Regions from separate parts of the Homo sapiens genome. Here region 2 is linked to region 1. Evidence: fine-mapped expression QTL. A gene starts in region 1. The other region holds a variant in brackets. All regions are shown on one strand. Distances are between the middles of the regions. Region 1 holds the start of TMEM65 (transmembrane protein 65). Region 2 overlaps FER1L6 (fer-1 like family member 6).

Region 1 (5,377 bases):
TGGGCTCAACATATGTCTGTTCTGTTACAGAGCTGAGGGGCAAGTGTGTCTGGTTATAATGGTAGCTGGCATTAGTTGGCTTTGTAGCTGGGGGTTTATCTGCTTTTCTTGGGAAGAGATTACATGAGGCCATAATAGCGTTACAATGGGTGTTACCAGTAGGTATGCAATTTAGGGATGACATGGCTGTAAATCTGAAGATAGTATGATCTGTACCTTATTAATACTTAAAAGTCCACTTTGTCTTTCTGCCTCTATCTAAAGCAGCATTTTCATTTGTTCCATCCTTTTTATCTATGTTCAACCCATATCCATTCATTCTATGTGTAACCTTTCTCATAAGTGACTTGCTTCTACATTTTAGTTTCTCTTGTTTTATAATAGAATTAAATATTCTATAGTAATATAGCAAAAGCATTACAGCAAACCCCAATGAGCAAACATGTATCATATCACGTTTATGATGTCCTCCTATTTATTGACCAAAACAAGTCAAATAGCCAAGCCCACAGTCAATGTAGAGGTGGACCACACAACGGAGCGGATAATAGAAGGTGTAGTTCATTGGGGATCACTACTATAACAATCTAATACTAACACATAGTTAGGAGACGGTTGATCCAGGGATCGAACTTTCCACAGTCTGTCTCTGGAGGCTACACACTAAACTACTATTCTGGAGGTGGTTGGGAATGGGTTCTTACTGAAGAACTTTTTTCAAACCTCACTTCCCAGGTCTGGGGCCTGTGATCCACCCCAGTGAATCAGAATATCTTGGGGGTAGGAAATTGTGGGGGGGATGGGGTGGTACTCCCATGAGCCTGAGACTGAAATAGCTCTGCAGAGGATTCCAGTGCACACTAGGGAATGAAGGGGGTTTCAAAGACAAGGAAGATATACTTTATGCACTCAAAAAGCTTTCATTTCCACAGAGAGCATTCTTAATTGTTGTTATTACATCACAGAGGCATCACCTTGGAATTTAAAAAAGAAGCGATTCCTTTCAATGTTTAAGAGACATCAGTGTTTCTCAAGCTTTCGTGTGTGTTATTACTGGAGGGCTTGTTAAAACCCACATGACTGGGTCCAATGTCTACGTTCTGATTCAGGAGGTGTGAAGTGGGGTCCACTATTTCTCACGTCTAAAAAGCTCTGGGACACACTTTGAGAACCAGAGTTAGAGAAGTAGGAGGCTTTAGTGGTAACAATCCTCCATTATTCAGTTTAATATTCTACTTACATGTAGCACATTTACTACCTACAAGTTTCCGGGCTGAGTGCAGCACTGTTTATGATAAGGATGGGATTTAGATCTTGATTACGCTCCAGCAGATTTATTAAGTGGATTTATTCTCTAAGGGTGCCTAAGCGTCATTAGACAGGTTCAGATAAAGCAGAGATCTCCTCCCTTAGAAGAGATTAGGGACAGCTTAATGAAGTAGGAGACCTTTCACCTGGGCCTTGAAAGATGCCTAGGACCTGGATCAGGGGAAATCGTGGACAATCAAATTATTCTTCCCGCTTTAGCACAGAGACAAAAAAATCACAAGCAACCACTAGGAAAGGTCTATGACATTCTTGCCTCTGCCTCTAGCATTAACAATTTGCATGCCAGCTGCTGGAATCTGAACGGGGAGGACTGTTCTCGTGTCAAGGGCTCAGTCTCAGACCCTCCTTGGGCAGGGGTGGAACTGGCTTCGCTTTCTCTTTGGGGCGCCCAGAGCGACTGCATTAGAGCCGGCCTGCTCGGCCGAAGCGGCGGTGGGCGCTGACTTGGCGAAGGGCGCAGCTGGGGCGCTTCGTTCCGGAGCAGAGCGCCGTGATCCCGTCGGGGCTGGGGTGGCAGCGCAGCTCTCCGCCTGTCCAGAGCGGGGCCGCACGCCGGGGCACCTTTCAGAACAAGCTCCAGATGTGGCCCCAGGTTGGGGGCCGGGTGGCAGCTGTACTACCCTGGCGGGCGAGGGGTCCAGAGCTCGTTTTCCCTATTCCGATCTGTAGGTTTAACGCCAGCACAGGGTGGCGCACCCTACCTCCTTCCACCTTCACGCACCAGCGCGGGAGGGGACGCGTGTGCACGCTCCTCCCCTAGGAGGGAGGGCGGCCCGAGAGCCTGCAGACTGCGCCTGCGCAGCCTCGCTCACACACCTCCCCGCCCCCCCGCACCTCCTTCCCCTTTCGCCCCGCCCCGTTCCCACTTCTGCTGCCGCTAGGGGTAGCGGCGGCGGCGGCGGCTGCGGCTCGGGAGCGCGGCTGCTTTGAGGGCTCGGGAACCTTACAGAGTGGGGACGTGGGGAGGCTAGAGGGTGAGAAAGCTGGCGGGAGAGTAGGGCGGCGCTGGAGGAGGGCGGTGCGTGGCTGACTCATCCTCTGGAAGATCAGACTGACAGAGACACACACTAGCCCGCCCCGCCCGCCCGCGCCGCTCCTCCTCAGCCGGGAGGCGCCCGCCCGCACCGACCGCCCGCCCTCTCCGGGCGCTGTCCGGGCCCGGCCGTCTCAGAGAAAGTTTTTCCCATCGGAGGGGCGGGAGCCGCCGCGGGCCTTTTGGAAAGGAAGTGGGGACGGAACAGGAGGCGAGAGCCGCGCGGGCCCGCGGAGTGCATGGTGCCCGGCGCCTCGGCTGCCTGGCAGGAGGACCTCGGGGCGGGGTCGAGCTGAGCCCAGCTCCTTCTCGCCTCAGCCGCGCCAGAAACCGCCTTGCCGGACGGCCGCGGGGGTCCCAGCTCCTCAGCTCGCCATGTCCCGGCTGCTGCCGCTGCTGAGGAGCCGGACCGCGCGCAGCCTGAGGCCGGGCCCGGCCGCCGCCGCCGCGCCCCGCCCGCCGTCCTGGTGCTGCTGCGGGCGGGGGCTGCTGGCGCTCGCGCCCCCCGGCGGCTTGCCGGGCGGCCCCAGGCGGCTGGGCACGCACCCCAAGAAGGAGCCCATGGAGGCGCTGAACACGGCGCAGGGCGCGCGCGACTTCATCTACAGCCTGCACTCCACGGAGAGGAGCTGCCTGCTCAAAGAGCTGCACCGCTTCGAGTCTATTGCCATTGCCCAAGGTAAGGGGGGCAGGTGGGGGGCGAGCCCGGGGGCCCCGACGCCCTCCTCTTCTCGCCAGCCCACCGGGAGCCCGCTGCGGCCCTGGATCTTGGACCCCCGCCGCCGCCCCCCTTCCGCCCCCCTCGCCTGTCTGGCCCCACGCCTGGGACGGCTGGGGGCGGGGAGACTTTCCGCCGCCCGAGTTTCCCCCAGGCAGGTAGGACGGGCGCGGGTCGTGCCAGGCAGCCGAGGCCAGCGCTAGCTACTTCCTCCCCAGCCTCCGAATCCGGAGCTTCGGCCTAAAATGCCAGTTAACGCTGTTGGGATTGAGTTTTGATTTGCCCCGTGCCTCCCCTCCCCAGCCCTCCTGTCCCTTAGCCCTTGCTGCTTTCTTGCGAGCGTGCACCCGTGCAGGTGGCATGCTGTGCCTGCTCCGAGAAAGTGCTGCAAACCCGCCTGGCAGGAAGAAACTTTTTGAACGGTTATCAAATGAAGACGTATGGGTGGGTAGCCAAAAGAAGGGGTGTAGCTTCGAAAGTCAGGGATGCTCATAGCTGCTTGTTTCCACACATGTCTGATTGCGTTAATTTCAGCAGCCAAAGGAAACATTTTCTCCAGAAATGGAAAGACAGATTCAAGTTAAACTCCAGTTTTGGTTTTTCCCAGAGGTTGAAAGAATGAAATAAATAAGGAGGTATATTTTTTGGAAATCTGTGGCTCTGTAGTAAAAGTCAGACTGATGCTCAAAAGTAATTGGGAATGATGAAAGCAAAACGATTTTTAAACTAGCATGTTAAAATAGGATATTTCTAAAAGGAGTCCAGAATGGGGTAGGGCAGAATTTGAGTCTAGGTGAAAAAGCTAAAAGTTCAGAAAATAAAAAGGATGAAAGGAGCAAACGACTAAAATGGATGTCTTAAAATATTTCTGCCACTTAAATACAGTTATGTAAACAAAACACATTGCTTCAGTTTGTATTACATTCTGATGTGTTTGAAAGTTTTAAAAAAGTTTACTCTCCTCTCTAAACTTGGTAGGTACATAAACATCTCATAGATTCCAAAGTGTAGAGCACATTGATTCGGATCATGCCATTTGATTTGCCAGACTTGAAAGTATATCTTTAGCTGATGTGCAGGAATGGAGGAAAGAATTATCTACCTCATGTAAGCAGGACGTTATCTGTACTACTTCAGAAACTTGTTTTAGTTGTGGCTTTTAATCAGATGTTTTCCCCCTCAGTTCAGGAAATTGTGGACCAATTTATAGTGGATGATTGATTCCAGACATTGTTTACCCACAGTGCTTTTACAGGAAAATGTAACGTCCGATCAATTCCGTTATTCAATGTGTAATCATGATGTTATATGCAATCATAATGAAACACTAGCACATTTGTAATCTATGTGTGCACTCAGTATGCAGTTTAAAAATAGTCAATTCTGAAAATATGCTCCTTGGAAAAATAATATAGTCAGTCATGTACTAGAACATTAACTTTTGAATCTTTCTGCACTGACAAGACTATTTGAACACACATTTTACCTTTTCCAAGTAATTTCTTGGAAATTCTGCATTGTCAACAAGTTACAAGATTGGAGGGCCCTATGAATATAGTTTTGTGGCAGTTCTTGAAAAACATGTCCTGCAAGGTGACTGAATAATTTTTTTCTCATACATTATTATTTTTTACATGCCAGCAGTATTGCAGTAGCAATGCTACATTTCCTAATAAAGATAATATTTTTAAATTTAACGTGGTTTTAAATATTCTGAAAAGGACCTAAGCACTTTAGTCAATGGAGATCATTAGCATCAATTAAACTTAGTTATGTTACTAATATGAGAGAGAAATTAGTAATTTAAATTGTCTTCTTTGCTCAGGAGAAACAGTCAAGGATATTTGAAACAATGGTTAGTCAGATGCTTATCTCTCCTCTTTATATGCTAAAGAACATCAAAGTTTAAATCAGCTATTTTTGCTGATGTCGATGACAAAATGATTGTCCTATGAATCAAATGACACAGATGCTGCTGCTTTGTTAGTGTATGTAGTCTTGGTGTTCACTTACTGTTTTCAGTATCAATACATATAGTTATGGAGATAACTAGAATCATCACTTAGGAAATTACCTTATTCATTAATCATTAAGGTAAAAGGGATTTTATTATGTTGGGAATGCGTACAGCTCATTCCATTGCTGAAATCAACAATTTTTTTCCAGCCAGATAAATGAAAAACTCCCATGTTTTCTTTTATTGTTGCTTTTTGAATAATGTTTTGAAGTACTCAACCGATGTATTGTGTGTGTGTACTAAGTGTACTTTCTAACAAAATTAATTCTATTTAAAGGGC
Region 2 (5,377 bases), 340 kb after region 1:
TCCAAAGACAATGCTCTTACGCATTTATATGGGGTACAGAAACCATGAGCTGAACCATTGGATATGTATTTCCAGAACCTTGTATTCTCTGACTATTGAGCAACTTCGATTCCACTGGCAGTCTAAGTTCAACCAACCTCAGAGGAGCCTTGGGCCACAGAGAAGACCTGACTCTACAGACAATTCTCCAGTGTTTCCAACATTGGCTCAACCCAAAACTCAACTTCAGCAGAAATGAAGGTAAAACTGCAGGCTGCTTTATCTGAACTCAGCAGCAAGAGATAACATAAATGGAAGTAATTTGGAAGCAGAAAGCAAAATGCAAGTGTAAGGAATATTTATAATAAAACTCAAAAATGTATCAAAACATAAACATGATGGCACTTACAGAAAATAACTACATAGAAAAAGGATTCCATAAAGCATGCTGAATTTTAAAAGCAGCCGAGCCAAGAACCAAGCTGGAGAAATATAAGTGAACCTACTGATACCAGTCTCCACTGGGTTACTACTAGGAAATGTGAATATCTGCTGTTGATATGTCAAAACTCGAATGCCACATAAAAGTAAAATCTGCCTTAATTCCACAGATCATGTAAGCACAAGAACATATTGACATTCTGACATTTTTTGCTTAAAACGCAAACTCAACCTACATAATCTGCCTACAAAGAAACTCAAATTACTTCCTCTCTATTAACAGAGAAACATAAGTGTTTATTCCAGATGTGTTTAATGATTTTACTCTTTTTAGATGGGACAATGAAAGGTAAGGTAGAACACTTAGAAACTGTACTTTACTTAAGAAGACCAATAAGTTGGCCCTAAAATAATGTGCAAAAAACTCATGCATGCTGCCCTCCTTATTATCTTTTCAGAAGCCCACCTGAGACCTCGAATGACCCTCTTTGCCCAGTGGGGACCCTACCTTGGTAGAGCAGGTTAGATGGGGGGTGATTGGTGCCAGCCCCTTTGGAGGACATTTCTGCTTCATAGCCTACTGGCAAGTTGTCCAAAATGGCACTGGCATGCTTGATGGAGCCCAGCCACAGGTACACGTCGACTTTTGCTTGCACAGACCAACCAGCCGGTCGTTTCCCAGGAGGCTGGAGAAAGGTTACAAAAAAGACTGACTTATTAGTAGGAGATAATTATAGGCCTCCCCTTTTGAGAAAAGAGGTCCTTCCTGGAGACACACCTGGAAGTATGTTCAGAGAGCAGTTCTCAAGAGCTCCTCTTAAATCAAAATAAAGACAATGGCCCCAATTGCCTTGATGCACAACTCCATATCTCCAGAGGAAGATCCAGGTCTAGTGGGACCTAAAGCTTAAACCTGCACTGTGATAAGCTCTTCCAAGCCGTGGGTCATTTAAACTTAATAGGTAGTAGGTGTGTTTATTGCCACCATTTGATAAATGGGGAAACACAGGCTCAGAGAGATAAAGTAAGTTGCCTGTGATGGCTCAGTTTTTAAGTGACAGAGACGAAAGTCAAAAATAAAAGAGATGATTCCAAATTTAGACTCTAGACTCTGAACCCCATAGCCTGACTGTCACTCTGAGCTGAAATCTTCTTCCTGGAACTTCCAACTGTCTGGAGTTCCAACCTGACTTTTTACCTCTTTGTTTCATGTAGAAGAATCCTAGTACTTCTTCCATAAGTCAGGACTCTATGACTTAGAAGAATCTACCTGGCCTGCCATGCACTTTCCTCCTGGCTAAACACCTTCACCGCTTCCTCATGCAGTGTGGTCTCAGATTCCCTTACTGCTCTGCTCTCTCTCTTTTGAATGTGCTCAGATTTGTATTTTTATTTATGTTTGCTTTAATTTCTATGTTTATGTCTGTATGAGTGGGGTAGTATTAGTATGCACAGGGAGTGTGTGCATGTCCACATGTATGTGTGTACATACGCCTGTGTGTGCATGTACTTATGTATATGTGTGTATATGCCTGCATAGGGGTGCATGTATTCTCAGAATCTAAAGACAAAATGTAGGCAGTGTGGCTCCTTTATTTCTCAGTCACCAGGATAAGGGTACTCCCTTACCCCTCTAAGGAGTCCCAGGACCCAGTCTTGGCTGTTGCCAGCAAGGCCATCATTCTGAGAGTAACCTATGGCACTTAGCTGCTACCTCTCAAAATGTTGTCAACTCTTCTTCTAAGTTCCTCTTCCTGGTGTTTCTTAGAATTTCCTGTCAGTAATTTTCTTCTTCTTCTTCTTTTT[T/C]TTTTTTAACATCACTTCCTTTCCATTGAGAGTCACAAAATCCTATTATGAAAGGCCACAACTTGCTCTGACAATTTCCAAGGACCCCATGGAGAGTCTCTGAATCCGAAATTGAGCATGGCTGTTTGCCTTTCTATTGTGCTCTGCGGGTTCCACAAATGGATTATGAGCAACTCAGCTTAGCAACTACTGCCAGTGCTGCTAGGCCCTTGCTGAGGGAGTGGGGCCAGAAGACTCAGTCCTGGCCCTCCCTCCAGGGCTCACAAAGAGGCCACTCCACTTGGCCACTTACCTTCACCTACTCAAATGCAAAGACAGAAAGTACTGAGGAAACTGAGAAGTAGCAGCAGTGATTTCCATCCTTCCTTTAGGATTCAAATATTTAGCTGGGCTTTAATGGGCACTTTAGTTGGATCCCAAAAAGAGAGGAAAGCATGTGAACAAAGATTTAGGTAATATGAGCTAATATTTAGCAAGTGCTTACTCTGTGCCAGGAATGATGCTAAGAGCTTTTGGGAAAGAAGTCACAACCAGTAAGCATAAGAGCTAGACAGAGAATGACACAGATGAAGCTGAAGAATCCTGCTCAGTATGTGGAGGAGCTGGGACTGTATTCTTTAAGCAGTAGGATGCCAGTGTTTGTTGAGCTCAAAAAAAAAAATCAAGTAAGTTTATTTTGTTGTTGGTAAAGGCAACCACTCTACAACCTGTAATTTACAAAATTATAAGACAAATCACCCTCAACTTATCACTTCTCTAATAATAATAGCCAAAATGTATTGGGGAATACATTTGTAAAATAAAATTAATACGTATTGAAAGCCTAAGATTATTTTCCTATAATAAAAGCAATCCCTCTGCCATTTGTAGACATCACTAAGACATCAATTCATAAAGAAAGGAATTTTTGTCTGTTGCTTCACTGCCGTGTCCCCAGTGCCTAAAAGAGTTCTTGGCACCCAGGAAGCATGTGGTAAATATAGGTTGAGTGAATATCCTTTATTTACTTTTCTAACAATAATAATATTTAACACATGTTGAGCACTTCTATCATTCTAGGCCCTGGTCTAATGTTTCTCTCTTCACACAGAATGTTCTATTGCCTGCAAGCTATCACCAAATCATAGGTTATCAGGGTTAGAGCCCAGACTCTCAGCCAATGCTCCTCACACACTGCTGTGAGCACATGGATTGCCAGGGCATCTGGTTAAAATGCACACTCAAATTCAACTGGTCTCTGGGAAATTTTGAGAATCTGATTTCTCCTGATGGACGCTAATCCTGCTGGTCTACAGATCTCAGTTTTAAGTATTTGTGCAGCAATGCTCTTAACTTAGTGTGCTACATTGCCCTAAGCAAAGCACATCTGAGATTCTGCAGGGTTTTCTTTTCTTTTTATCCCCCTCCCACCCTGCCCCCATAGAATCACGCTCTGTCACCCAAGCTGGAGTGACGTGGTGCAGTCTCAGCTCACTACAAACTCTGACTCCTGGGCTCAAGCCATCCTCCCACCTCAGCCTCTCAAGTAGCTTGGACCATGAGCAGGCACCACCATGCCCGGATAGTTTTGTATTTATTGATTTTTTGGGAGGTAGAGATGGGGTTTCACCATGTTTCCTAGGGTCATCTCAAACTCCTGGACTAAAGCAATCTGCCCCCCTTTGGCCTCCCAGAGTGCTAGGATTACAGGCAAGAGCCACAGAGCCTGGGCCTGTGTTTCTTTTCTTTTTTTTTGAGACAGTCTTGCTCTGTCACCCAAGCTAGAGTGCAGTGGTGCAATCTCAGCTCACTGCAGCCTCTGCCTCCCGGGTTCAAGTAATTCTCATGCCTCAGCCTCCCAAGTACCTGGGATTGCAGACATATGCCACCACACCCGGCTAATTTTTGGATTTTTAGTAGAGATAGGGTTTCACCATGTTGGCCAGGCTGGTCTTGAGCTCCTGACCTCAGGTGATCCACCCGCCTCGGCCTCCCAAAGTGCTGGGATTATAGGCATGAGCCACCATGCCAGGCTGGCCTTGTGTTTCTTAAAGTAAAACAAAACAATGACAAAAAACATCATTCATTTCTACTGCTACTAAACAATAAATGGGTGTTTAAACTCATGGTTAAAACGAAAGACTCAGCTAATGTCTTGTGAAAGTGTTCCACAAAGACTGTTGCTGCACTCCTAAAGTTAGCAACTTGTACATTTAAAAAAATATATGCAAATTGGAATTGCTGGCAAGATAATGCAGTGTCTCACTTAAGTATCTAAGTTGGATTCATTCAACATTATCGAGCACCTTCCTAGGTGCTTTCAGGAACAGGATCCCATTTTTAATTTCATGTGTACTTTCAGCCTGGTTACATGTCTGCCCCTGCCTTCCCTCAACTGGGGCTCAGAAAACAATACCCCCAAATGAAAGCCTCAGAAGCAAAAGTGTTTCTCTGACCTCCTGCCCTCTTATCTCTCAGTCCCATTCACCCCCAGGTTAGCCATAGAAACTAGAATCTCTCTTCCCTAGTGCAGGTCACAGAAACCAGAACCCCATTTCCCCAAAGCCAGCTATAAAACCTAAAAATATGACTCTAACTTTCCCTCTGCCTTTCTATGTAAAAATTGGCCATAAAGAAATTATCTGACCTATCTTGTGTAACTGTAGCCCATTCCAGAGAGGGTTCTACTCCACATCCAGAAGGAAAGAATGCTACAGAGAGGCCAAGAAGCAGCTAGGCAGACAGGCCTTGCTGTTTCCCCACTCAGTCCACTAGCATTAGATAATACCCTTTTTACTGAATCGTATTTCTACATGTCCATCCATGCTTTGTTGAACCTAAGCATAAAAATGGATGATTTCCCCCTATTTTGGGATCTTCCTTCTAAAGGCTCCCATATATTAATGTGTATATTTAATATATACATTAAATAAATTTGTATGCCTTTTCTCCTATTAATCTACCTTTTGTGAATTGATTTTTCAGCGAAGCTTCAGAGGGCCAAGGGAAAGCTCTCCCTTGGCTCCTACACCTGCTTCCCCACTCTCCTTCCTCTCTCATGTGCCCCTGAAGCTTCACCAACCACAGCAAGGTATTTCCCTCTGAGAATAGCATGGAAAGGTAGGAAAAAAGAAAACACAACAGAGAAAAACAATTAAGAATGCAAAAATGC

Evidence for each region. PIP is the estimated chance that this variant, and not a neighbour inherited with it, causes the effect. A credible set is the group of variants that fine-mapping cannot tell apart.
Region 2: its variant is the best candidate, but not a certain one, in a credible set for the expression of TMEM65 in whole blood (TOPMed, PIP 0.54).

The regions. Positions count from the first base shown.
Region 1 is chr8:124,369,518-124,374,894 of GRCh38, reverse strand. TMEM65 (transmembrane protein 65) reads left to right here and starts at 2,194. Exons shown (of 7, transcript NM_194291.3): 1 at 2,194-3,041. The coding sequence starts at 2,738. RefSeq lists enhancers at 1,632-1,821, 2,033-2,327 and silencers at 2,052-2,281, 2,402-2,671, 2,802-2,931, 2,982-3,111, 3,122-3,171.
Region 2 is chr8:124,031,006-124,036,382 of GRCh38, reverse strand. FER1L6 (fer-1 like family member 6) reads right to left here. Exons shown (of 41, transcript NM_001039112.2): 19 at 929-1,106. All of the region lies in intron 1 of FER1L6-AS1 (FER1L6 antisense RNA 1), which reads left to right. Among named protein-coding and RNA genes, the nearest start is that of FER1L6-AS1, 7.1 kb to the left of the region's middle. The variant T/C (reference allele first, on the strand shown) is at 2,227.